Linked DNA regions of Homo sapiens. The protein of the gene in region 1 purifies or fractionates together with the protein of each later gene. This does not show direct contact. Each region holds a gene or a part of one and is shown in the gene's direction. Other genes may lie near its edges. The genes, in order: ZFC3H1, ZC3H18, DCAF1, PTCD3, GPN3, TBCE and PPP2R2D.

Region 1 (3,500 bases):
CTAAAAATAGAAAAATTAGCCGGGTGGTGGTGGCGTGTGCCTGCAGCCTCAGCTACTTGGGAGGCTGAGGCAGGAAAATCACTTGAACCCGAGAGGCGGAGGTTGCAGTGAGCTGAGATCGCGCCACTGCACTCACTGCACTCCAGCCTGGGTGACAGAGTGAGACTTCCATCTCAAAAAAAAAAAAAAAATACGTATCATTTCTAAGATGGAGTGAATGTAGTTCTTCTCAAATATTATTTGAGTATCCTTCAAAATGTTAAAAAAAAAACTAGTTATATCAATTAACAATCTTCTCCTATCTACTTTAGCTCCTCCATTTACAACCTACAAAGATAAAAGAAAGTGGAAGCCAAAGTTTTGGAGAAAACCTATTTCAGATAATAGCTTCAGTAGTGATGAGGAACAGTCTACAGGACCAATTAAGTATGGTAAGAAGTTATGTAATTTAAGATCCAGAATTATTAAATTGTGGTGTTCCATCTTTATTTAACACTTTGCTAATCCTTTGGTGTATCAGCCTGCCTGGTTAAAAAAAAATTTTTTTTAAAAACGATGCCATTGGGTTTTTAGACAATACAGTTAATTCACTGTGCAGGATTGCCTCTGAAATTGCGGGATATTTGTGTTCATGGCTCCTCTCCAGTAAATGCAAGGAGCACTGCTTAGTTAATAATTATGACTGCTTCAGATATTTCCAAACATACATTAGTTGGTGGGGAAGGTAGCTCCCGTTTGAGAACCACTGCCTAGCCTGTGTCCTCCTTAAGGGCAGGTGTTCTATTTTACTTCATCTTTGAATATGTTTTCTGACATGCAGAAGGCTCAAAAGATGAGAATGAACAAATGATGAATGAACTAATGAACAAAATAATGTATGAATGAGTGCCTGTATGTTAGGCACATTTTACTTTCTAATTTCAAGTTTGCATTATTTGTGAATTAGCAAGTATCCAAGAGATGTATGCTATTATGTACTTATTTACACTAACGTAACACTGTTTTTCTAGTTTAGATATAGTAGAATAATCTTTATAAATTATGACTTTTAATTTCTTAATTATAATTTGCAGTTTAACAAATGTGAATTCATTTGATAATAATGAAAAAGCAGTTGAATCATAGTTACTGTTAAGTGGACTGAAAAGGTAATGTCACTTAGCCTTAAAATAGCAGAGTTCTAATTACTCCTTTTGTTCTGGTGTAATTTTTAGTAGCACCTCTTTCCACTCAGAAGGGTCCTGGTTTGGGTGATAAATTATGTCATAGCTCTACCTTAAAGCTGTGAGCTAGTACATGTCATTAGAATCTTTAGGTTTTTAAGTTACTTTAAAGATGAGACCAATTGTTTTCTTTTTCTTGCATCTGTGGACTAAAGAAAATGTGAAGCTAATAATACTTTTTTTTTAAATAGCTTTCCAGCCAGAGAACCAAATAAATGTTCCAGCTCTGGATACAGTTGTCACTCCAGATGATGTCAGATACTTTACAAATGAGACTGATGACATCGCTAATTTAGAAGCAAGTGTGCTTGAAAATCCTTCTCATGTACAACTTTGGCTCAAGCTTGCGTACAAGTACTTGAATCAAAATGAGGGGTAGGTCAACTTCAAATCTTTGTGTAAACAGTTGCACATTTATATTTTTATGTTTGAGGTTTTTTTACCTATGGTAATCAGTCAGGTTTCTTTCCTAGTATCAATGGAGTCTTTGTTTTTTGACAAAGCCAAAAGCATTTTATTGTTTAAAAGCTATTAGACAAGTTTAAGATTAGATCTTGAGTTTGTGTGCATGGCTCAGTGTATGGGTAATAAATTATACTAAAGTTTTTTACTCCAGTAGGCTCTTATTTCAAAGTAGGATTAGTTAAAACAGTAAATTCTGACTAGTGGAATGGTTGATTGTTTTTTAAAAAAATCATAGTAGTCATAGTTTGTTAATAAAATTATGATAAAATAATGGTGGAACAGGTTAAATTTTGTTAATTTGTAATGGATATTTAAAGCTTATCTGAGAACTTCCAAATTATGGTGAATTTTCTTTCTGTCTCTGTCATATTAAATTATATGTATTTAAATAAGGTAAATGGTAATAACTTATACAACCAATAGTTTGTATTGCAAATGGCATCTTCTAACTTCTTGGTAGTAGAAATAAGCCAAGAATAATCTTTTCATAATTATAACTTTATAGTTACAATAATTCAAGGGTTTTTTTTTTTTACACGTTTCTTTGAAATATTTGACTATCTTAAAGCTTTTAAATAAGGCAGTGCTGCAGAGTGCTAATAAACCCACACATGCCTGGATGTGTTGCTTATTTAACTTTCCTGTGTGTCATTTCCATGTTAATGGGATAAGTTACAGTGTTTTCTTTTCTGACTCATTTACTGAGTGAAGGCCAAAAGAACCATACATTATTTTATGAATAGGATCATGAGAAAGAATTATCTTCTCCAAGAGATAGCAAGCCCTTGACCGTTGAAAAGAACTATTATACTGAAAGCTTTGATATTTTGTACTTGCAGTAGCTGGCCTTGAGAGAGAGTTGTTTAACTTTTCGCATTCCCAAATGGTGTAAATCATAAAAGGTATTGCTGAATATGGACATAAAGCACATTTGAAGTTGATAATCTTAGTGGTTTTATAACACTGTACTTTTATCTGTGGTAAATGCTTACTGAACATTCACTTAAAAAAATTGTTGGGTCTGTGGAAAATCAGAAACTTTTAGGCATGTGATTTAAAATCTGAAATCTAGTACCCCTTTTCATAAGTGATCCTGACTTCTTGGTAAATTCTAGTAGAAAATGGAATTTTAAAATTGACTCATTGGATTAGCCCTATTTAAATTTTCAAGCAGGTTCTAAAAAGCACTTCCACCTTTTCTTTTATATATACAGGGAGTGCTCAGAATCCTTGGATTCTGCTTTAAATGTTCTGGCGCGAGCATTGGAAAATAACAAAGACAATCCAGAAATTTGGTGCCATTACCTCAGATTGTTCTCAAAAAGAGGAACCAAGGACGAGGTGCAGGAAATGTGTGAAACAGCTGTTGAATATGCTCCAGATTATCAAAGCTTTTGGACTGTGAGTAGAAAAGATAACGTACGTGTGTGTGTGTGTGTGTGTGTGTGTGTATAATTATTTGGATCATCTTAAAAATTGATAAGTAGCTTAATAGAGCATATGCTTTATCTGAATATAGACATAATAACCTTACTTTCAGTTTCTAGTAACCACAAAGCCACTTCTGGATCAGAATTTAGACTAAGCAAGAAGAAAATATTTAGTGAAGAGGTGATTTTTTTGTTGTTGTTAACTTTATTGGTAAAGAAAAAATGTAAAATTGTTAAAAATTTCACACTTACCTATTTTTACACAGTTTTAGTTTGGGCAAAGTTAAGTGTAGCTTTTGCAAAACACCTGAAAAAATTGTTTCTTTTAAATTTATCTTAAATTGCCTCTATAAAATTATAATGACTGCCAGGAAACATTTTT
Region 2 (3,500 bases), on another chromosome or scaffold:
TGGGACGGCTGGGGTGTCAGCACCTTGGAGCCGTCAGCTGACACCATGTACCTCACTGGGTCAGGTGGGGAACACCCCAGCCCCACTGTTTGCTGTGGCGTCGTTACCTGCAGACCAGTCAGTGGGACTAACCCGGCGTTTATACCTTCAGCAAAGAGCATCAATGCCAAGTAGGACTGACGCAGTGACCCCAAATGGGGCACAGACCCCGGCGACTGAGCCTGACTGCTCCCAGGGAGTCACAGGCCACACTGGAGGGAGGGGCACCTGGATGCGGGAGGACGCACAGACCTGGGGCCCAGTGAGTCCATCTGTTCCTCCAGACTGGACCTGAAACTGTTGCCCCTCCACCTACGGTCCTGGTCTCAGCACACAGGAGCCCGGCTCCCGAGTGAGGGATGATGGAAAGCAGGGGGCCGGGGTAGACCCCATCATGCTCGGCAGGAACAGGAGGTGTGGGTGGGAGGCCAGGCTTCACTGAAAGTGGATGCAGATGAACAGATAGACACACACACGGACCCACGTGAGCTGGGTCTGCCCACTCAGGCAGCGCCACCCGGTAACAGCAGGCACACCCCACGCCCAGGTCTTGATTTCTAAATGCCGTTCTGCACCAAGGAGGGATGGCACTGAAGAGTGTCTGGGGGAGGCTGTATGCGTCTGTGCGCGCGTCTGCAGCTGTGCGCGCGTGCGCAGCTGTGCGCTTGTGTGTAGCTGTGCGTCTGTGGGTGTGTAGCTGTGCATGTGTGCGTCAGGGCGTGTGGGGCAGGGAGGGCCCTTCTCACTTCTCGCCACGCTCCGTCCCGCCCGCCCCAGGTCGTCTTCGCGGTCATCGTCCTACTCTGGCTCCGGCTCCTCCCGGTCGCGATCCCGGTCTTCATCCTACAGCTCCTACTCCAGCCGCTCTTCCAGACACAGCTCGTTCTCAGGAAGCCGGTCCAGGTATGTCCCCAGGGCCCATGAAGGGCCCTCAGCAGGTGCAGTGAGCAAGGGCACCTGCGGATGTGGCTTTAGTTGTGGCGCCAGTAGCCCCTTGGGGTATTGAAGGTCCCTGCTGGCAGCTGAACTAGGATGGCCAGGGGGTCGTGTCCTGTGTCCCCCACCAAACACCAGCCTTGCGGGCCCTCGTCCTTGTGTAGATGCGTGCTGTCACTGAGGGCCACAGCCTGAGATCCTCGAGTTGAGGCACTCCAGTCCTCCGCAGACAGGCCGAGGAAGGGGCCAGACCCAGCCCTGTCCTGTGGGTGTTTCTATGGGAGCTGTGCTGCTGCCCCACTGCCAAGGAGCCTGTCTCCTCCTGTCCTGCACACACATGAACGTGACACTCGCCTCCCGGAGGACCCGCCAGTGGATGCTGACACCTTCCACGCTCTCTGGTCTACTCTGGGCCTGTGTTTTTAGCAGATGACAGAACAGTCCAGAACTGAAGTTAAAACTGAGGCACATAAATGGAAATTCGTGGCCTTCTCCATGGGTCTGGGTGGGTCCTCAGTGGGCTTGGGCTGGTGAAGAAACACCCCCAGGCCCCTTCCGACACCTTTGTTCACTCCCCTAGGTCCCGGTCCTTCTCTTCGTCCCCGTCCCCGTCCCCAACACCTTCCCCACATAGACCTTCCATCAGAACCAAGGGAGAGCCGGCCCCGCCGCCCGGGAAAGCAGGGTGAGTGCCCAGCCTGTGGGCAAGTCCTGGCCGGCCAGGCCTCCACAGGCTGCAGCCTCCTCCCTCCGTCTCTATCTCTCATTTGTGTTTGGGACCAAAGAGGTGAGGATGCCTCAGGGGGCTGGCCCCAGGGGGTGACTGGGCTGGGAGGCACTGGGCACAGCTCCTGTTCTCACGGGCCACCCTTACACAGCAGCACTCCCTCGGGAACCCTGGGGACAGAGCACAGCCCTGGGGACACGGCAGCAGCCGGGTGTTCTTAAGGGGTCTTCCTATTAGCCTGCTCTCCCCACTGCCTGGCGGTGCCTGTAGCTCTTGCCTGTTAGAGGGGAGCCTGGAAGGGCTGCTGGGGGCTTTGAAGCCGTTCCCAAGCACTCTGACACCGATGGGTGGGGAGCCGTGTCCAGGCACGAGCGTGCTCACCGAGCGTCACAGGCATGCAGTGTCGTTCCCCGAGCTGTGGGTCCATTGAAAGGGGATGTAGGCCAGCGGGGCCCCGTCCACCAGCCCTGCCCTGCTCGAGCCTCCCTGTCTCACAGAGAGAAGTCAGTGAAGAAGCCGGCCCCGCCTCCAGCCCCACCACAGGCCACCAAAACCACTGCTCCTGTCCCCGAGCCCACCAAGCCAGGAGACCCTCGGGAAGCCAGGAGGAAGGAGCGGCCAGCCAGGACCCCCCCCAGGAGGTGAGCACTCCGGCGTCCGGGGCCCTCAGGCTTTCCGTGTTCTTGGTGCCACTGTGATGCTGGCACTGCTGGAAATCCAGAGTGCCAGGGTCCAGAGCCAGGTGGTGGGAAGCGCCCCCTAGCCGAGCAGCACCCAGTGAGCCCTTACCCGGGAACCTGCCCTGTCCCCTCCCTGAGCCTGTGTTTCTGGAGCGTGAAGGGGAAGGGACAGCGTGGCACGGAGCACAGGCCTTCCCGCCATGGCCCCGTCTGCACTGGAAGGTGCTGCCCCCGAGAGACTGTACTTTTTATCTTGACAAAACACTGAGCCTAAAGGAAGACAGGCCCAGGCCCTGTTCCAAGGTGGTAGCAAGGCCAGTCTGGAGGCTCACCTCACAGGGCTGCTGGTGGGGAGGGGAGGCCGCGAGGGGCTGTGGAGGCCACGCCCCCTGAGCCCCGCTGTTGCTTGTATTACAGGCGGACGCTAAGCGGCAGCGGCAGTGGCAGTGGTAGCAGCTATAGTGGTTCCAGCTCCCGATCCAGGTCATCCCCATCACCCTGTGCCTCTGTTTCTCCCTCCCCGTCGGGGCCAGGAAGTCCCAGAAGCAGCCAGTGTGGGTTGGGCTGTCTCCCACAGGTGGGCTGGGGCCCTTCTGGATCTGAGTCACCCTGGGGCTGTGGAAGGCTGCGGTTGAAGCTTTGACACAGGAGAAAATGGGCCAGGACTCGTGATAGGAAGACCCCCTCCCCCCACCAAAAAAAGATTCACAAACTCGGGGGCACTCAGGTCAGGAGGAGGTGCCTCTGCCCTGCTGACTTGATGCCCAGCACCCTGAGAGAGCACCTGCACCTGGGGAGGAGCCGGCAGCTTCCAGCCCAGCAGGGCAGAGGCTGGGCCTGCGTGACCTATCACACCTGTCGAGGGAACCGGCCTGAGGGGGTGGGGAAGCCGATAAAAACATCTGAGAAGAGAATACATGGAAAAGCTTTGTGGGCCAGGTGCGGCGGCTCACACCTGTGATCCCAGCACCGTGGGAGGCCAAGGCAGGAGGATTGCTTGAGCCCAGGACTTGACCAGCCTGAGCAACATAGACCCCATCTCCACAGAAAAAGATTTTTTTTTTTTTTTTTTTTTTTGAGACAGTTTCATTCTTGTTGCCCAGGCTGGAGTGCAATGG
Region 3 (3,500 bases), on another chromosome or scaffold:
CCAAAGCCCAGCCATAAAAAAACAGCTGGACAGACATCTTCCTTCCCCACCTACGCTGGACAGTATAATCACAGAGTATCTTAGAGAACAACATGCTCGCTGCAAGAATCCAGTTGCCACCTGCCCACCTTTCTCCCTCTTTACTCCTCACCAATGTCCTGAGCCAAAACAGAGGCGGCAAGCGCCAATAAACTTTACGTCAAGGCTAAACCGCAGGGCATCATTTCCAAAGTATGGAGGGGTGGATGGCGGATGCTTTGATAGGCACCTTATCTTTAGCAGGTAAGAAGAGGCCCCTTCTTACTCCCTGGGAATTGGAATGATTCTTTTATTTAAATCAAACTGGGCAGTATCAGCATAGTTGTCCTGAAATACCACTGATTGTTACTTTGTGTAATACTTGAACAATGTAATTGTACCACCTTTTGTCAACCATGGGTTCCTTGTGTGATTGTTGGCAGTATATTGATATAATCGTTTGTGTTCTCATCTCAACTAGTATGTTTTCTAGAACCCACACCCCCTCATTACTACTGTCCATAAGGAGGCTCCCAAACTTGTGCTGGTGCAAGTTGCTTCCTGTTCTGATTCTTGACAAATCTTACATAAAGGTTACGGGATCACAGGTTTTAAACATGGGAATTTTTTTTTTTTTTGGAGACGGAGTCTCTCTATCGCCCAGGCTGGAGTACAGTGGTGCTATCTTGGCTCACTGCAACCTCTGCCTCCTAGGTTCGAGTGATTCTCCTGCCTCAGCCTCCTGAGTAGCTGGGATTACAGGCAGGCACCACCATATCTAGCTAATTTTTGCATTTTTAGTAGAGATGGGGTTTTACCATGTTGGCCAGGCTGGTCTTGAATTCCTGACCTCAATTGATACCCCCCCTTCGGCCTCCCAAAGTGCTAGGATTATAGGCATGAGCCACTGTGTCTGGCCTAAACATGGGAATTTTTGTTATTTAAATTTGTAAGTGGAAATCTTTTTCTTATTTAAAATAAAAAGCACTGAAGGTCACTGTGATTTTGGAAGAAGCCATTTGAAACATTAATGTTCTGTGCTTTTTCTTCTATCCTAGCAGTTTGCTTTTTCTGAGTCCCTGCACATTCTTTGCCTGTGATTCTCTCTTTTTTTTGCTTAGATTCCGTCCTATTTCAGTGTTCCGGGAAGCCAATGAAGATGAGAGTGGCTTCACCTGCTGTGCATTCTCAGCACGGGAGCGGTTCCTGATGCTTGGCACCTGCACAGGGCAGCTGAAGCTCTATAATGTGTTTAGTGGACAGGAGGAGGCCAGCTATAACTGTCACAACTCAGCCATCACACATCTTGAACCTTCCAGGGTAAGGGTTCCTTCCTAGGATGCTCTCAGTCATTCTTCCAAGATGAATTGGTGAACTAGAGTAAAGGAGGCTTACCCTTTATTGAGCTCTCTCTTTTAAATGAGTCCTCAACTGGAAAGTCTAGTTGAGGTTAATTCATATTTCAGATGGAGACTGAGGAATATGGCAAAGTTAGTAGGAAGAAAGGAACCATCTTTGACATCTTCTCATTTTCCCCCCTCCCTTTTATCTATTCTATTTTTGTGGCTAGTTCAGTAGGATTTAATATTCTCTTAAGTTTGGTTATTTTATAGGACACTATAGGTGTATGTATTCAAATCCTAGTGGCTTCTGACCATTTCTTGGTTTCTGGGGATTATAAAATTGTCTCTTTAATTCAACAACATTTTTATGCAAATCTTTAAAAATGCTAATGGCAGGTAGTGACATCTGCATGTATGTAAATACGTGGTTACCCACCTTGCGCCTTTTTCTTTTAGGATGGGTCCTTGCTGCTGACATCTGCTACTTGGAGCCAGCCTTTGTCTGCACTTTGGGGAATGAAGTCAGTATTTGATATGAAGTATGTATCTGCTTTTGGAACCTAGTCTGTGCTTTATTTACCTAGTTTATACCCCCCTTCATTTGGTTCTTAGACTGGAAGCCTTTTGGGGAAAGAGGATGCTGTCGGTTATTGTTAACTTCTCTCTTCCTCATCTAAGACTCATGTTTAATAAGACTTTATCTTTCTTAATTCCTAGATACTTTTATGAGGTATATACATTCTCATTATGCAGCAGACCCCGACCCAGAATCTATGTATTTTCCCATGTTCACATAGGACATTGCAGTCTTTGCTGTGTCTCCTCTCCTCTCCTCTCCCCTCCCCTCCCCCCTCACCTCCCCTCCTTTTCTCTCTCCTCTCTTCTCCTCTCCTTTCCTTTCCTTTCCTTTTTTTTTTCTTTTTTTTATTTTTTGTGAGACAGAGTCTCGTTCTGTCGCCCAGGCTGGAGTGCAGTGGCGCGATCTCAGCCTACTGCAAGCTCCGCCTCCCGGGTTCACACCGTTCTCCTGCCTTAGCCTCCCGAGCAGCTGGGACTAGAGGCGCCCGCCACCACACCTGGCTAATATTTTATATTTTTAGTAGAGACAGCGTTTCACTGTGTTAGCCAGGATGGTGTTGATCTCCTGACCTTGTGATCCGCTGGCCTTGGCCTCCCAAAGTGCTGGGATTACAGGCCTGAGCCACCGCACCTGGCCTTTTCTTTTCTTTCCTTCTTTAGACGGGGTCTCATTCTGTCACTTAGGTTGGAGTGCGGTGGCACAAACATGACCTACTGCAACCTCCACCTCCCAGGCTCAAGTGATCCTCTCATCTCAGCCTGCTGAGTAGCTGGGACCACAGGCATATGCCACCACGCCTGGCTAATTTTTTGCATTTTTGATAGAGATAGGGTTTCGACATGTTGCCCAGGGTGGTCTCGAACTCCTGAGCTTAGACAATCCACCTGCCTCAGCCTCTCAAAGTGCTGGGATTGTAGGAGTGAGCTACCATGCCTGGCCCCTTTGCTGCGTGTTTCAAAGGCACATGTGCCCTGTTTGTCATTTCTCTAAGGAATTCCCATTCATTATTTTGTATCTGCTTGGTTAAGGTGATAGAAGGAATTTTCTTTGTAATCTAAGTGTATGATTGTTTCCTCTTTGGGAGTCCAGGATCTTTAGGTGAGTGTGATTGTGCAAGAGGCTGGGGGTCACCTGTGTTTCAGTTGGTTGCAGGAATATGTCCTGAAGATCTGTCACTTCAGTGCTCCTGTTGTTTGTCCATAGGCATTCCTTCACAGAAGATCACTATGTTGAGTTCAGTAAGCACTCCCAGGATCGGGTCATCGGCACAAAAGGAGACATTGCCCACGTAAGTACTTAAGAACCACTGTTTTCAAGCTGATCATACCCATTTGTTCATACTGAAATCTTCTTGATAGAATGTGAGGACCTAAGTCCTTTGGGCAACTAGAAATCAGTGATATTCCTTCTAGTTAGAATCTAAAAGTATGATAATATAGTTCTGAGCTGTATGGGAAAAATGTATAAGGGCTAAATGTGACATTGAGAAAGATGTCATTAGCACCACAGATATTTTTGAATTCTTAGTAAGTTTTAGATTAGAAATGAAACCCCTGCCT
Region 4 (3,500 bases), on another chromosome or scaffold:
GCTGAGGCAGGAGAATCACCTCAGCCCACGAGGCAGAGGTTGCAGTGAGCCAAGATCGCACCACTGCACTCCAGCCTGGGCAAGAAGAGCGAAACTTTGTCTCAAAAAAAAAAAAAAACCAACCACTTTTTTATATCATACTAGTCTATTATTTTTGCGTCTTTTCTTGGAAAACTCTCCTAGGTAGAAGACTGAAGACAGTTGACCACCTCTATCAAGTGGGGTGGGTGTTTGAATTAGCAGGCTTCTTTAAAAGGCAGAATCATGGAACCTGCTAATTAATAAACAGTTCTTAAAAGAGGGATATAGTTACTAACCTGCTTTAAACATAAGCAAGAAAGCTAAATTCTTTACTTTGTATGAAACATAGATTATTGGACAGATTACCCAGGCATGAAAGATACTTCTTGTTTTTTATTCACCTAGGAGCTGCTAAGACACATGGTTGCACAGAAGGTGAAACCAAATCTTCAGACTTTTAATACCATTCTGAAATGTCTCCGAAGATTTCATGTGTTTGCAAGATCGCCAGCCTTACAGGTTTTACGTGAAATGAAAGCCATTGGAATAGGTGAGGATGCGCCCTTGAGTTCTCTGAGGACAGAGACTGTGCCAGCCAGAGGTTTCAGGGCTACATAAGCAAAGAGCTTTAAATTATTCTTGTGCTTACATAATATGTTGGAAATTTTCTTTCCATGTTTGGCACATTTACTTACATGTACTTATTATAGTGGGAGTGCCTTTATCATCTTAGTGTTCATTAGTATTTTAGGTACTTTGTTTATGGATCTGTTGAATCTGAGGAGAAGTGATTGCTTTGAGTTAGCTAGTTTTAAATTCATGACATTTTCCCAACATAATTAGGTATTTGAACCTAAGTGTGTGCTAGTGTATTGTATATTTTTCATTAATTACTTTATTGAAAGTTGCTTTGGGAATCAATTCACTTCAATATATTTTACTGTTCTCAGTGAAGAATGTGACTAATAAGTATTTGGACTTTCAAAAAGTGATACAGTCTTTGTGATAGTTTTTTACCTTTACATTAATGAGTTGGAAAATAACTTTGTTCAAAGGAATAGAAATGCATATTTTGCTTAAATATTAACAATATGTTTTTAATTCAGTGTGTCTCAGTAAACTATGTTTTGGATTGCTGTGTTTTTACCTCATTGTTTATTTTTTCTGTCTACCTGGTAATTTGAGAACCCTCGCTTGCAACATATCACCATATTATTCGCCTGTTTGATCAACCTGGTATGTATGGCCTTAAATTGTGTTAATTTATATAGAAAATTGACCAGCTTTCTTGAGTTTATGTGATTAATTGTTGTAGTTATCTTCTCTGCATATGAATTAAGAAGAGAGAATTTGTAAATTAACCTGTACAGCCTGAGCAGAAAGTTGTGGTTTTTTTAGATACAGGATCTTGCCCATTGCAGCCTTGAACTCCTGGGCTCAAACAGTCCTCCCTCCTCAGCCTCCTGAGTAGTTAGGATTACAGATGCCCACCAGCATGCCTAGCTGATTTTTTTTTTTTTTTTTTGGACAGGGTCTTACTACCTAAAATTATTCTTGAGGGTAGCAATCTTGTTTGTGGTCTAAAACTTGAGCTGGAGGGGAGAGGGTTATGGATTGTACTGGCAGTGATGTTGTACAAACAGGAATTGGGTAGAATATATTTTGGTTGAAATTCCTTTTGTTCTCTGGAGCTGTGCTATTTAACACCATAGCCACTAGCCACATGTGGCCAGTTAATTAAAATTAAGTAAAATAATAAATTATTTTGTCACATTGGTGCTCAGTAGCCATGTGTCTAGTGGCTACCATGTGTCGTGATGCAGATTCAGAACATTTCCATCTTTGCCAAAAGTTTGTGGACGTTTCTGCTCCAGAGGAAAGGTAAACTTATTGTGAAGCGTTTTGGGAGGACCTCAAGGCTCCATGCGTTGTCCACTTTTAGGTCAGTTCCAGTGGGAGCTCTGCTCTGTAGTAGATGGACTTTGAAGAGAGACACACCTGAGCTGAGATGTCCACTCTACCATTTATTTACCAGCTATGTCAAAGCGACTAGATACCTACCTGAGGAATAGCAGCAGGGTGTGGTAGTTAAATGAGTTCCACACTGTGTCTGCTACTGTGCTTGGAGGGCACATATGAGGCACTCAAAATCTTTTGGTTCTTGTCCATTATCCCCAGCCTGAGAAATAACCCTTGAGTTCAGAATTGACAGTTCTAGTCATTCTTTCTTGTGGATAGACTATAAAAATTACAGAAGGGAAGTTGTTTCTCTCTGGTTTGGAGGACTAATTTTGTAAAATCCATATCCTCACCTGTATAGGCAAATTTTATCTTTAGGAAAAGGAACCAGTTAATTGACTATACCTTGGAAACAGGTAAACAGTTTCCATAATTGTGTCCCCTAAAATTTTACTCAACCTTGGTGAGATTGTGATGGAGCTAGTATTTCTGACTCCAAAGTATATTCCTTTCCTCTGTAACTCTCATCACTGGTTCAATTGCTAATCAAAGTCAGATGTACTTACATTTCCTAAGTAACAGCCAGGACTGGGGGATGGGGGTTCTGGGGGAGCTGTGTTGGTTTGTCTTATGTATATAAATTTGCCTGTCTGCAGCAGTAGTTTTGGCTTACGCCTGTAATCCCAGCAATTTAGGAAGCCAAGGCAGGAGGATTGCTTGAGCCCAGGAGTTTGAAACCAACATAGAGAGACCTCCATGTCTACTAAACATGAAAAAAGTAGCTGGGCATGGTGGCGCACCCCTGTAGTCCCAGCTACTCAGGAGTGTGAGGCAGGAGGATTGCTTGTGGCCAGGAGGTTGAAGCTGCAGTAAGCTGCGTTTGCCCCACTGCACTCCAGCCTAGGTGACAGAGCAAGACCCTGTCTCAATAGTAATAATAATTTCTAGGAATTTACCCAAAAGAGAGAGCCTAAAATAACCTAGAAACAATACATTGAAAAGAGAATATTATGTAACTAATAAAATTAAGAATATTAGCAAAGGGAAGCATGCTTGAGTAAATTGTGAAACTCTATCTGTACTGTCATTACAGCTTTACTACCACAAACATACAAAACAGGTAGGGAAAGGAGTGTAGAGAAATATTTGACTGGGAATATTGCAGATGATTTTCTGACCTATTAGTGCTCAGTTCATGTTATATTTAAGAACTGCCCTGTCCATTAATTCTAGTTTACTTTTTCTTGACCTCATTCTGATTATATTTAAAGGGAACACAAATGATTACTAGCAAAAAACATTTTTAGCCGGGTGCAGTGGCTCATGCCTGTAGTCCCAGCACTTTGGGAGGCCGAGGCGGGCAGATCACGAGGTCAGGAGTTCAAGACCAGCCTGACCAACATGGGGAAACCCCTCCTCTACTAAAAATACAAAAAATTAGCCAGGCGTGGTGGCGAGGGCGTTAGTCCCAGCTGCTCGGAAGGCTGAGGCAGGAGAATCGCTTGAACCCGGGAGGCGGA
Region 5 (3,500 bases), about 39 Mb from region 1:
TGAATGAAGCTCAGTCCTTTGTGAATGGAGAATGTAGGTTTGAGCACAAAAATAAGTAAAAACCTAAGGTAGAAGATTCTATATACTGATTCCCCAAAATTAGTAAGATAACCATACCAGAATTTTTTAAGCCTCTCCTGTTGGTGATTTTTTTTTTCCTGAGACAGTCTCTCTCTGCCACCCAGGCTGGAGTGCAGTGGTACCATGTCATCTCACTACATCCTCTGCCTCCTGGGTTCAAGTGATTCTCCTGCCTCAGCCTCCCGAGCAGCTGGGATTACAGGCACATGCCAGCACACCTGACTAATTTTTCTATTTTTGTTTGTTTTTGTTTGAGATGGAGTCTTTTTTTTTTTCAATTTTATAACTTTATTTGATGTATTTGACGATCAGTGATTAGTTCTCATCGACATTGTCTGTAGATTTTTGAAAGTGGTGACAGGTACATAGGTAACCAAAGTATATGGCTTATTTGGTGAATCTTCATCCTCATTACGTTTTCTGGACAGCTGCACACGGATTCAGTATGGGACATTCCTTATTCCTTTGGCCCAGACAGCTTTGTTGAGCCTGGTATCAATGCGCACATCTGGAGTTCCCATCTCCTTCATGGCAAATTTCTGAATCTCTTTGAGTGCCTGAGGGGCACGCTTCTTGAAGCCCACTCCATAGATGTGCTTGTGAATGTTGATGGTGTATTCTCGGGTTACCACTTCGTTGATGGCAGAATGGCCCTTTTTCTTCTCGCCACCCTTCTTTGCAGGAGCCATTCTGCTGGGTCCAAGTTGGAAAGTGAGATGGAGTCTTGCTCTGTCGCCTGGGCTTGAGAGCAGTGGCGTGATCTTGGCTCACTGCAACCTCTGCCTGCTGGGTTCAAGTGATTCTCCTGCCTCAGCCTCCGGAGTGGCTAGAACTACAGGCGTGCGCCGCCATGCCTGCTAATTTTTGTATTTTTAGTAGAGATGGGGCTTCACCATGTTCGCCAGGCTGGTCTCGAACTCCTGATCTCATGATCCCCCCACCTCGGCCTCCCAAAGTGCTGGGATTACAGGCATGAGCCACCATGCCCAGCCTAATTTCTATATTTTTAGTAGAGACAGGTTTCAGCATGTTGGCCAGGCTAGTCTTGAACTCCTGACCTCAAGTGATCCGCCTGCCTCATCCAAAGTGCTGGGATTACAGGCAGGAGTCACCGCACCCAGCCCCTGATGGTGATTTTGATATATTATCTCATAGTTCTCATCCTTCTAACCCAGGATAAGGAAAGTGAGGCTCAAGGAGGTGAAATAGTTTCCTTAGTGTCATTGTGTTAAGAAATGGTAATCTGTTTTCTTTTTTTGGTTTTGTACTTTTTTGGAATAGGTAATACATATTCACATGGTTCATAATGTAAAAGTACTAAAGAGTAAGTATACAGGAAAACATCTTCCTCTCAGCTCTGCATCCCAGCAATCAGCTCCCCTCCCTGGCAGCAGCCAGTGTTACCAGTTTCTGGTGTGTTCTTTCATAGCCTGTGCACATAAAATTCAAGATGTATATGTATTATGTCTATGTAGTGAATTTTTGTCTTTTATTAACACCAATGATAGCATTCTTACACAGTTCTGCACCTTGCATTTTTCACTGAACAATATACCTAGGAGATTGTATTATTATTAATACTTAAAGAGATTTTCCCCATTTATGGCTGTGTAGTATTCCATTGTCGGGCTGTACAATAATTTATTTGCTCAGTTCTCTATTGATGGACACTGCTACAGGGAAAAGCCATGTACATAAATAATTTCCTGCATATGGGTTTTTTATGTAATTATTAACTTTTATGTTCTATTTCTAGTAAGGATAACAATTTTTGAAGGGACACATATATTCTGGGCCCTATCTGTCCTTTTCAGACATCCGGGAACTGATCGAGGTGGATGATGTAATGGAGGATGATTCTCTGCGATTCGGTCCCAACGGAGGATTGGTATTTTGCATGGAGTACTTTGCCAATAATTTTGACTGGCTGGAGAACTGTCTTGGCCATGTAGAGGACGACTATATCCTTTTTGATTGTCCAGGTGAATCAACAATTTGAATGCATTGTCTTCCTTAAAGTCTTGATAGTTCCATCCTTAGTAGGAGAAAGGAGAGTGAGTATTTGTAGCTCTAAACTATACTGCAGTAAAGTACCAAGCTTATTCAATGGCTGTCACTTACTAAGTATATCTGTTGAGGCCGGGCGCAGTGGCTCACGCCTGTAATCCCATCACTTTGGGAGGCCGAGGCAGGTGGATCACGAGGTCAGGAGATCGAGACCATCCTGGCTAACATGGTGAAACCCTGTCTCTACTAAAAATACAAAAAATTAGCCAGGCATGGTGGCGGGCGCCTGTAGTCCCAGCTGCTCGGGAGGCTGAGGCAAGAGAATGGCATGAACCTGGGAGGTGGAGCTTGCAGTGAGCCAAGATTGTACCACTACACTCCAGCCTGGGCAACAGAATGAGACTCTGTCTCAAAAACAAAAAAAAAAAACAAAAAAAAGTATATCTATTAAGTGCTTGCTTTGTACACTGGGAATACCATAGAGCACAGATGGCCATGGTCTCTGGCCTCATGGAGCTCACATTTGGCAGAACTCGAGACAGTACAAACAAAAAGCATCCAAATGATTATTTAATATTCAGTTGTCATTGAGTATTCCACAGGAGTAGCACAGATCATCACACAGATAATGGCGGTTAGAGAGGCATCTGAGGCGGCCTTTCAGCTGGGCTGGAGGCTGAGGGTGAGGAAGGCAGAGGGCACAGCCTGCTGAACACCTCCCAGGAGGAAGGAACAAAGCTGTTTTAAGGCACTGAAAAGGCCAGTGTGGCTGGAGCATAATAAACAAAGAGGCAATTGTCATGAGGTGTGACTGGTAGGAGACAGATAATAGCACATCATGGCTTCTGAAGCCAAATCGTGAATTTTCTTTTTTTTTTTTCTTTTTTTTGAGACTGAGTTTCATTCCTGTCACCCAGGCTGGAGTATGATGGCGCCATCTCGGCTCACTCCAGTCTCCACTTCCTGGGTTCAAGTGATTCTCCTGTCTCAGTCTCCCAAGTAGCTGGGATTACAGGCACCCACCACCACACCCGGCTATTTTTGTATTTTTAGTAGAGACAGGGTTTCACTGTGTTGGCCAGGCTGGTCTCAAACTCTGGACCTTAGGTGATTCACCTGCCTCGGCCTCCCAAATGCTGGGATTACTGGTGTGAGCCACCACCTCCAGCCCAAATTGTGAATTTTCAACTTGAGCCTAACCTGGCTTTGACCATTTATGGCCCTCACTTTTTTCCCCTTGCTTTTAATTGACCATACATATACCCACAGAAAAGTATATATGTCATAAGTATACAGCTTGATGAATATTCCCAAACTATAGATATCTTTGTAGCACTTATTTATTTATTTTTGTAGAGATAGGATCTCACTATATTGCTCAGGCTGCTCTCAAAGTCCTGGGCTCAAGCTAT
Region 6 (3,500 bases), on another chromosome or scaffold:
AGGCTAGTCTTGAACTCCTGACCTCAGGTGATCCATCTGCCTTGGCCTCCCAAAGTGCTGGGATTACAGGCGTGAGCTACCGTGCCCAGCACAGGTTTCCCCTTTCATTCTTGAACCATTTTTGCATAGACATGTGAGTGTACAGTAAAGCCGGTAGACAGGCCTGAATGAGTTGTGCTCCCAAATAGAGCAAACGGGGGCAATTCAACCCATGGTGTCTCATCTTCTGGAAATACGGGCTTGTGTTTTTTAATAGTATCGTCTTTCAAAGTGACTGTCAGGATTGAATACTTTCTGAGATTAGGGTTTTGAGAAATAATTTAAGGGGCAATAATTTCATCCATCCTCATAGCCAAAGGGCAGACTCTATGTTTAGAGAAGCAAAATTCTAGCCCATGATTCAGTGTATCAGTAAGACTCTGGAGAACGGGACTTTGTTTTGCAGTATCCAGAGCCATATCTTGTGAAGCTGGAAGCTCACCTTGCAAATGCCTGAGTTTTGGGTTTAGGAAGCCTACAGCCGCATACAGGTGCCCTAATCCTGTGAAAGCATCTTTACACAGCTGATACCAAAAAGTTGTATGTTGTAAATGTTAAAAATTAGGTAGTCTTGATTCACTTGAATCATTAAAAAAGTGATTTTTAAAATATAATTCCATTTTAAGATTGAAACAAATCAAACCCCTTAGATTAAAACCCAGATTGTTGCTTTCAACAACTATTTCAGTTGGGTTTACTGTATAGAAATAAGTACATTGTATCTTTTTTTTCTACACAGTGAAAATAAACTAAAATTTCCCTCCGGTTCAGTATTAACTGGAACGCTTTCTGTACTGAAGGTTTTAGTCCTCAATCAAACAGGAATAACGTGGGCTGAGGTAATCATATTTCTTTGTTTTATTACACATTAATAAGCAATTAAAAATGTTTGGTTTAATAGAGAATTGTTAGTACAGTTTAATAGTACAACTGTGGCTTCATTTAAATCATCCCAGTATCTATTAATAGATAACAAGATTCATTAAAGTGCCTTATAAAAACGAGTTAAAAGAGCATCATAGTTGAGTTTTGCATCTGGAAATCCATGTCCTATCTCAGCTCATTTTGACTTGTTCTGGTGCCTTTATAAACAGTGGCGCTCCGTTATGGTATGAACCAGTATGTGCTGAGCTTCAAAAAGCCGTAGTGTTGGCTATTGACTAGCTTCCTGAGTTTTCCTGTTAGTTTTTTTTAGAACAGAAGCCAAGCAGCAGAAAGGTTCTCACATACTTTTCTTGTTAGAAGTTCGGCTCTTGGAATCCACTGTTCATTTTATACAGCCGGGCTCAAAAGTAGACTTGTGGGTCCTTGGCACAGCAGCATTTGGGACTTATATCTGGCAGTACTATTTCCTGTCTGAGGTGTACTGACTTCACACACCCAGAGCATTCCACTTTCTTTTTTTTTTTTTTTGAGACGGAGTTTTACTCTTGTTGCCCAGGCTAGAGTGCAATGGTGCAACCTTGGCTCACTGCAACCTTTGCCTCCCAGGTTCAAGCGATTCTCCCACCTCAGCCTCCCAAGTAGCTGGGATTACAGGCATGTGCCATCACACCCAGCTAATTTTGCATTTTTAGTAGAGACATGGTTTCTCCATGTTGGTCAGGCTGGTCTCGAACTCCTGACCTCAAGTGATTTGCCCGCCTCGGCCTCCCAAAGTGCTGGGATTAGAGGTGTAAGCCACCGTGCCCAGCCCACTTTCATTTTTATTTATTTATTTTTCTTGAGACAGAGTCTCACTCTGTTGCCCAAGGTGGAGTGCAGTGGCGCAATCTCGGCTCACTGCAACCTCCGCCTCCCAGGTTCAAGTGATTCTTCCGCGTCAGCCTCTCAGGTAGCTGGGATTACAGGCATGTACCACCATGCCCAGCTAATTTTGTATCTTTAGTAGAGACAGAGTTTCTCCATGTTGGTCAGGCTGGTCTCGAACTCCTGACTTCAGGTGATCCACCCACCTCGGCCTGCTAAAGTCCTGGGATTACAGGCGTGAGCCACCGTGCCCAGCCCACTTTCATTTTTATTTATTTATTTTTCTTGAGACAGAGTCTCGCTCTGTTGCCCAAGTTGGAGTGCAGTGGCATGATCTCGGCTCACTGCAACCTCCGTCTCCTGGGTTCAAGCAATTCTCCAGCCTCAGCCTCCAAAGTAGCTGGGATTACAGGCGCTTGCCACCATGCCCAGCTTATTTTTGTATTTTTAGTAGGGACAGGGTTTCACCATGTTGGCCAGGATGGTCTTGAACTCCTGACCTCAAATGATCTGCCTGTCTCAGCCTCCCAAAATGCTGGGATTACAGGCGTGAGCCACTGTGCCCAGCTTGGGCATTCCACTTTCAAACCAAGGGTGTAGAAATACATTCCCAGCCATGTTCACCCAGGAAGTGCCACAGAGGCCACTCAGTGAGAGACAGGTGGGCCCCTTGTGCCCTTAATATGCCCGTGGCCATGGAGCCTCTTTCCTAGGGCCCCTCCTCTGTGAGGCGCTTACTCCCTCTCAAGGTGTAGATGTAGCTGGAAGACAAGAAGGGGCCAGACACTGGCACTGGGGCTCACACCTGCAATCCCAGCGCTTTGGGAGGCTGAGGTGGGAGGATCACTTGAGCCCAGGAGTTTGAGGCTGCAGTGAGCTAGGATTGCACCTTTGCACTCCAGCCTGGGTGACAGAGCAAGACGCATCTCACCCTCCAAATAAACTAGGAAGGGCACACAGAAATTGAAGTGGTGGAGATGGCAGTAAAGTTCCAGTGAGAAAATTTAGAAATAGTTGGTGAGGCTGGTCATGGTGGCTCTCGCCTATAATTCCAGCCAGCACTTTGAGAGGCCCAGGCAGGAGAATCACTTGAGGCCAGGAGTTCAAGACCCACCTAGGCAACATAGAGAGATCCTGTAGATGCTATATATATATTATATATTATTATACATAATTATATAATATATAATAATTTTTTGTAATTTTTTTTTTTGTAAAAAAAAAAAATTAGGCTCATGCGCAGTGTGGTGGCAGCAGGCACGGTCTCGACATGCAGAAAGACGCCAGCAAGTTCGTGGATCTGTGCGTGCTGCAGAAATGCTCCACCAGCAACTGCATCATCAGTGCCAAGGACCACACATCCATGCGGATGAACGTGGCCAAGGCCAGTGAGGTCACGGGCAGGTTTAACAGCCAGTTTAAAACCTGTGCTATCTGCAGGACTGTTTGCAGGATGGGTGAGTCAGATGATTCCATTCTCTAATTGGCCATGGCCAAGGGCGTCATCTCAACTATTTGGTTTTTGAGATGGAGTCTTGCTCTGTTGCCTAGGCTGGAGTGCAGTGGTGTGATATTGGCTCACTGCAACCTCTGCCTCCTGGGCCAAAATGATTCTCCTGCGTCAGCCTCCCAAGTAGCTGGGATTACAGACGTGCACTACCACGCCTGGCTAATTTTTTGTATTTTTAGTAGAGATGGGTTTTCACCACGTT
Region 7 (3,500 bases), on another chromosome or scaffold:
AAGCACATACAGGAAAAGCCACCGTGAGCAAGTCAGCAGAACCACAGCAGAACTGAACCTCCGAGAAGGCAGCTGTTGAGATCCTAAGTTAAAGAAGATAAACTAAGAATGCTTGAGATATTCACAGACTAGAGGAAGGAAACAGCCTGAACCAGGAGCCACATGACCGCTAAACGTGACCTGGAGACTGGAAAGGAATCAGAGGGAACATCTAGAAATGACAAGTATGATACATGACCGCCAAACATGACGTGGAGACTGGAAAGGAGTCAGAGAACATCTAGAAATGACAAGTATGATACATGACCGCCAAACATGACGTGGAGACTGGAAAGGAGTCAGAGAACATCTAGAAATGACAAGTATGATACATGACCGCCAAACATGACGTGGAGACTGGAAAGGAGTCAGAGAACATCTAGAAATGACAAGTATGATACATGACCGCCAAACATGACGTGGAGACTGGAAAGGAGTCAGAGAACATCTAGAAATGACAAGTATGATACATGACCGCCAAACATGACGTGGAGACTGGAAAGGAGTCAGAGAACATCTAGAAATGACAAGTATGACAGATGAAACTGTGTGGGTTTAGCAGCAGGTCCATTTTGGCTAAACAGATCTTGTATTAGTGGATGGAAAGGAAAACCAGAAGAAATGCGGGCTAAAGAGCCAAACAGAAAACAAGAGACACTAGGAACCGTGGAGGCCAGGGTGAGGCACAGCACACGTTTAAACAAAGTTTGGGGGTGTGAGGCTTAAAGTGACAGTGGCCAGCAATTTTCTCTAAATTATGAAAGCCTGAATACACAGGATCGGGAGCACAGCATCCATCCATCTCATAATGAAATTGCAGGACACCAAACGCAAAGAGAATATCTTAAATGCACCCAAGGAAAAAACGCAAATTACCTCTGAGAGCGGACACCGAGACTGAGACTCGGCTTTGCCACGGCCACAGTGGGAGCCAGAAGCCGTGTGACAGATCCAGCAAGTGTGACTCCTTACTCTCCACCGCCAGCTTAGAATCAAGCCTTGAAGTAGATGCTCGTTCAAGAATCTGCTTGTGATAAAGGCATTTTCAAATGGGAAACAATGTATCACAACAGGAAACTCAGTAGAGCGAGCTGTAAAGGGAGCCTGGCCCTGCAGAAAGGGGCTGAGACAGATAGGCAGAGGAACGCAGCCTGCAGGGAAGAGCAGTGCAAACTCTGAAGCTCTGCCACCTGGACGGCCTTAGTTATCTGTGTTTGGGGGAGAAAAATTAGAGCCCTCACCAGCCCCACACAATAAATAAATAAGCTCTGAGTGTTTCTAAGCCTAAGACATCTTTGTGAGCTCTGGAAACAAGGGCTTCTTTAAGAAGGCCCCAAAAGCCCAAGGAAAACATTAAGAAATTCAACTACATTAAATTTTAAACTTCTTTATATTGAAATTAAAAGTGAAAACAAAATCCACAAAAGGATAACGAACAGAGATTAAGTATCCAGAATAGGTGCAGAATTAGTTGTCAACAAGAAGGTGGCAAACAACTCAGAAAAGAGCAAAAACCATGAATGGGGTTTCGCAGAAATGGAAAAATAAATAGAAATGCTCATCCTTCTTAGTGATCAGCAAGTAAAGCCAGAGGGACGTCCTTTCATGCCCATCAGAATGATGATGGTTTGGGGGAGAGGGTGGAGACCAGTGGTCTTACCCAGTACCCTTCTTGTGACCTCCTTGGTGACATTCAGTCGGGTTGGGAGCTTCTTGCATGTTCAGACAAGAAAACGTGCTCAGATACCTGAAATAGCAAACAACTGGAGACAGCCCACAGGTGCATCATTAGAGGAATGGACAGGTAAGTTGTTCTCTATCATAACATATACTGAAAAGCAGTGAGAATCAATTATTAGAACTACATGGATCACCTAGGTGGATCTCACAAAGATAATCCACAAAGAAAATTCAGGAGGAATGCGTACGGTGCAATGACATACAACATGTTTAAGACATACAAGACGGTTTTGTTTTAAGAATCTGTAACTATTGGCCAGGCGCAGTGGCTCACACCTGTAATCCCAGCACTTTGGGAGGCTGAGGAGGGCGGATCACGAGGTCAGGAGTTCGAGAGCAGCCTGACCAACATAGTGAAACCCCATCTCTACTAGAAATACAAAAATTAGCCGGACATGGTGGTGCATGCCTTTAATCCCACCACTCAGGAGGCTGAGGCAGGAGAATCGCTTGAACCTTGGAGGTGGAGGTTGCAGTAAGCTGAGATTGTGCCACTGCACTCCAGCCTGGGCGATAGAGTGAGACTCTGTCTCAAAAAAAAACAAAAAAAATCTGTATACAAAATATAAATGTGTGTGGGGATGACACATATGTACTCTAGCAAGTGAGGACCCCAACTGGGGATGGGATAGGAGACCATCTTTCTTTCCAGAGTGGCAACACAGTGCAGGGGGGTCCCTGTCTTAGCAGTGACTTGCTGGTGTGCAGAGGGGTCACTCTCTTAGCAGTGACTTGCGGGTGTGCAGGGGGTTCACCACCTTACCAGTGACTTGCAGGGGGTCCCTGTCTTAACAGTGACTTGCGGGTGTGCAGGGGGGTTCGCTGTCTTAGCAGTGACTTGCGGGTGTGCGGGGGGGTTCACTGTCTTAGCAGTGACTTGCGGGTGTGCAGGGGGTTTCACTGTCTTAGCAGTGACTTGCGGGTGTGCGGGGGGGTTCACTGTCTTAGCAGTGACTTGGGGGGTCCCTGTCTTAGCAGTGACTTGCGGGTGTGCGGGGGTTCACTGTCTTAGTGACTTGCGGGTGTGCGGGGGGTTCACTGTCTTAGTGATTTGCATGTGTGGGGGGGGTTCACTGTCTTAGTGACTTGCGGGTGTGCGGGGGTTCACTGTCTTAGTGACTTGCGGGTGTGCGGGGGTTCACTGTCTTAGCAGTGACTTGTGGGTGTGCGGGGGTTCACTGTCTTAGTGACTTGGTGTGCGGGGGGGTTCACTGTCTTAGTGACTTGTGGGTGTGCGGGTGGTTCACTGTCTTAGTGACTTGCGGGTGTGCGGGGGGTTCACTAGTGACTTGCGGGTGTGCGGGGGGTTCACTGTCTTAGTGACTTGCGGGTGTGCGGGGGGTTCACTGTCTTAGTGACTTGCGGGTGTGCGGGGGGGTTCACTTAGTGACTTTCGGGTGTGTGGGGGTTCACTGTCTTAGTGACTTGCGGGTGTGCGGGGTTCACTGTCTTAGTGACTTGCGGGTGTGCGGGGGGTTCACTGTCTTAGTGACTTGCGGGTGTGCAGGGGGTTCACTTAGCAGTGACTTGCGGGTGTGTGTGTGGGGTTCACTGTCTTAGCAGTGACTTGCGGGGGGGGTCCCTGTCTTATCAGTGACTTGCGGGTGTGTGTGGGGGGTTCACTGTCTTAGCAGTGACTTGCGGGGGGGGTCCCTGTCTTATCAGTGACTTGCGAGTGTGCGGGGGTTCACTGTCTTAGTGACTTGCGGGTGTGCAGGGGG

The links.
Region 2: the proteins of ZFC3H1 (region 1) and ZC3H18 purify together in Homo sapiens (affinity purification with mass spectrometry; 3 studies listed by BioGRID and IntAct, with this or other methods). This does not show direct contact.
Region 3: the proteins of ZFC3H1 (region 1) and DCAF1 purify together in Homo sapiens (affinity purification with mass spectrometry; 3 studies listed by BioGRID and IntAct, with this or other methods). This does not show direct contact.
Region 4: the proteins of ZFC3H1 (region 1) and PTCD3 purify together in Homo sapiens (affinity purification with mass spectrometry; 2 studies listed by BioGRID and IntAct, with this or other methods). This does not show direct contact.
Region 5: the proteins of ZFC3H1 (region 1) and GPN3 purify together in Homo sapiens (affinity purification with mass spectrometry; 2 studies listed by BioGRID and IntAct, with this or other methods). This does not show direct contact.
Region 6: the proteins of ZFC3H1 (region 1) and TBCE purify together in Homo sapiens (affinity purification with mass spectrometry; 2 studies listed by BioGRID and IntAct, with this or other methods). This does not show direct contact.
Region 7: the proteins of ZFC3H1 (region 1) and PPP2R2D purify together in Homo sapiens (affinity purification with mass spectrometry; 2 studies listed by BioGRID and IntAct, with this or other methods). This does not show direct contact.

The regions. Positions count from the first base shown.
Region 1 is NC_000012.12:71,625,849-71,629,348, reverse strand, and holds part of ZFC3H1 (zinc finger C3H1 domain-containing protein), read left to right. Parts: intron 1-311; coding exon 312-431; intron 432-1,414; coding exon 1,415-1,598; intron 1,599-2,902; coding exon 2,903-3,089; intron 3,090-3,500. UniProt on the Homo sapiens protein: Subunit of the trimeric poly(A) tail exosome targeting (PAXT) complex, a complex that directs a subset of long and polyadenylated poly(A) RNAs for exosomal degradation. The RNA exosome is fundamental for the degradation of RNA in eukaryotic nuclei.
Region 2 is NC_000016.10:88,622,403-88,625,902, forward strand, and holds part of ZC3H18 (zinc finger CCCH domain-containing protein 18), read left to right. Parts: intron 1-816; coding exon 817-942; intron 943-1,555; coding exon 1,556-1,660; intron 1,661-2,199; coding exon 2,200-2,343; intron 2,344-2,799; coding exon 2,800-2,865; intron 2,866-3,500.
Region 3 is NC_000003.12:51,416,516-51,420,015, reverse strand, and holds part of DCAF1 (DDB1- and CUL4-associated factor 1), read left to right. Parts: coding exon 1-282; intron 283-1,139; coding exon 1,140-1,338; intron 1,339-1,817; coding exon 1,818-1,900; intron 1,901-3,144; coding exon 3,145-3,229; intron 3,230-3,500. UniProt on the Homo sapiens protein: Acts both as a substrate recognition component of E3 ubiquitin-protein ligase complexes and as an atypical serine/threonine-protein kinase, playing key roles in various processes such as cell cycle, telomerase regulation and histone modification.
Region 4 is NC_000002.12:86,126,735-86,130,234, forward strand, and holds part of PTCD3 (small ribosomal subunit protein mS39 precursor), read left to right. Parts: intron 1-426; coding exon 427-571; intron 572-1,206; coding exon 1,207-1,257; intron 1,258-3,500. UniProt on the Homo sapiens protein: Mitochondrial RNA-binding protein that has a role in mitochondrial translation.
Region 5 is NC_000012.12:110,458,258-110,461,757, reverse strand, and holds part of GPN3 (GPN-loop GTPase 3), read left to right. Parts: intron 1-1,895; coding exon 1,896-2,063; intron 2,064-3,500. UniProt on the Homo sapiens protein: Small GTPase required for proper localization of RNA polymerase II (RNAPII). May act at an RNAP assembly step prior to nuclear import.
Region 6 is NC_000001.11:235,429,927-235,433,426, forward strand, and holds part of TBCE (tubulin-specific chaperone E), read left to right. Parts: intron 1-778; coding exon 779-878; intron 879-3,019; coding exon of another isoform or gene 3,020-3,172; exon of another isoform or gene 3,173-3,306; intron 3,307-3,500. UniProt on the Homo sapiens protein: Tubulin-folding protein; involved in the second step of the tubulin folding pathway and in the regulation of tubulin heterodimer dissociation.
Region 7 is NC_000010.11:131,949,508-131,953,007, forward strand, and holds part of PPP2R2D (serine/threonine-protein phosphatase 2A 55 kDa regulatory subunit B delta isoform), read left to right. Parts: exon of another isoform or gene 1-897; intron 898-3,500. UniProt on the Homo sapiens protein: Substrate-recognition subunit of protein phosphatase 2A (PP2A) that plays a key role in cell cycle by controlling mitosis entry and exit. Involved in chromosome clustering during late mitosis by mediating dephosphorylation of MKI67.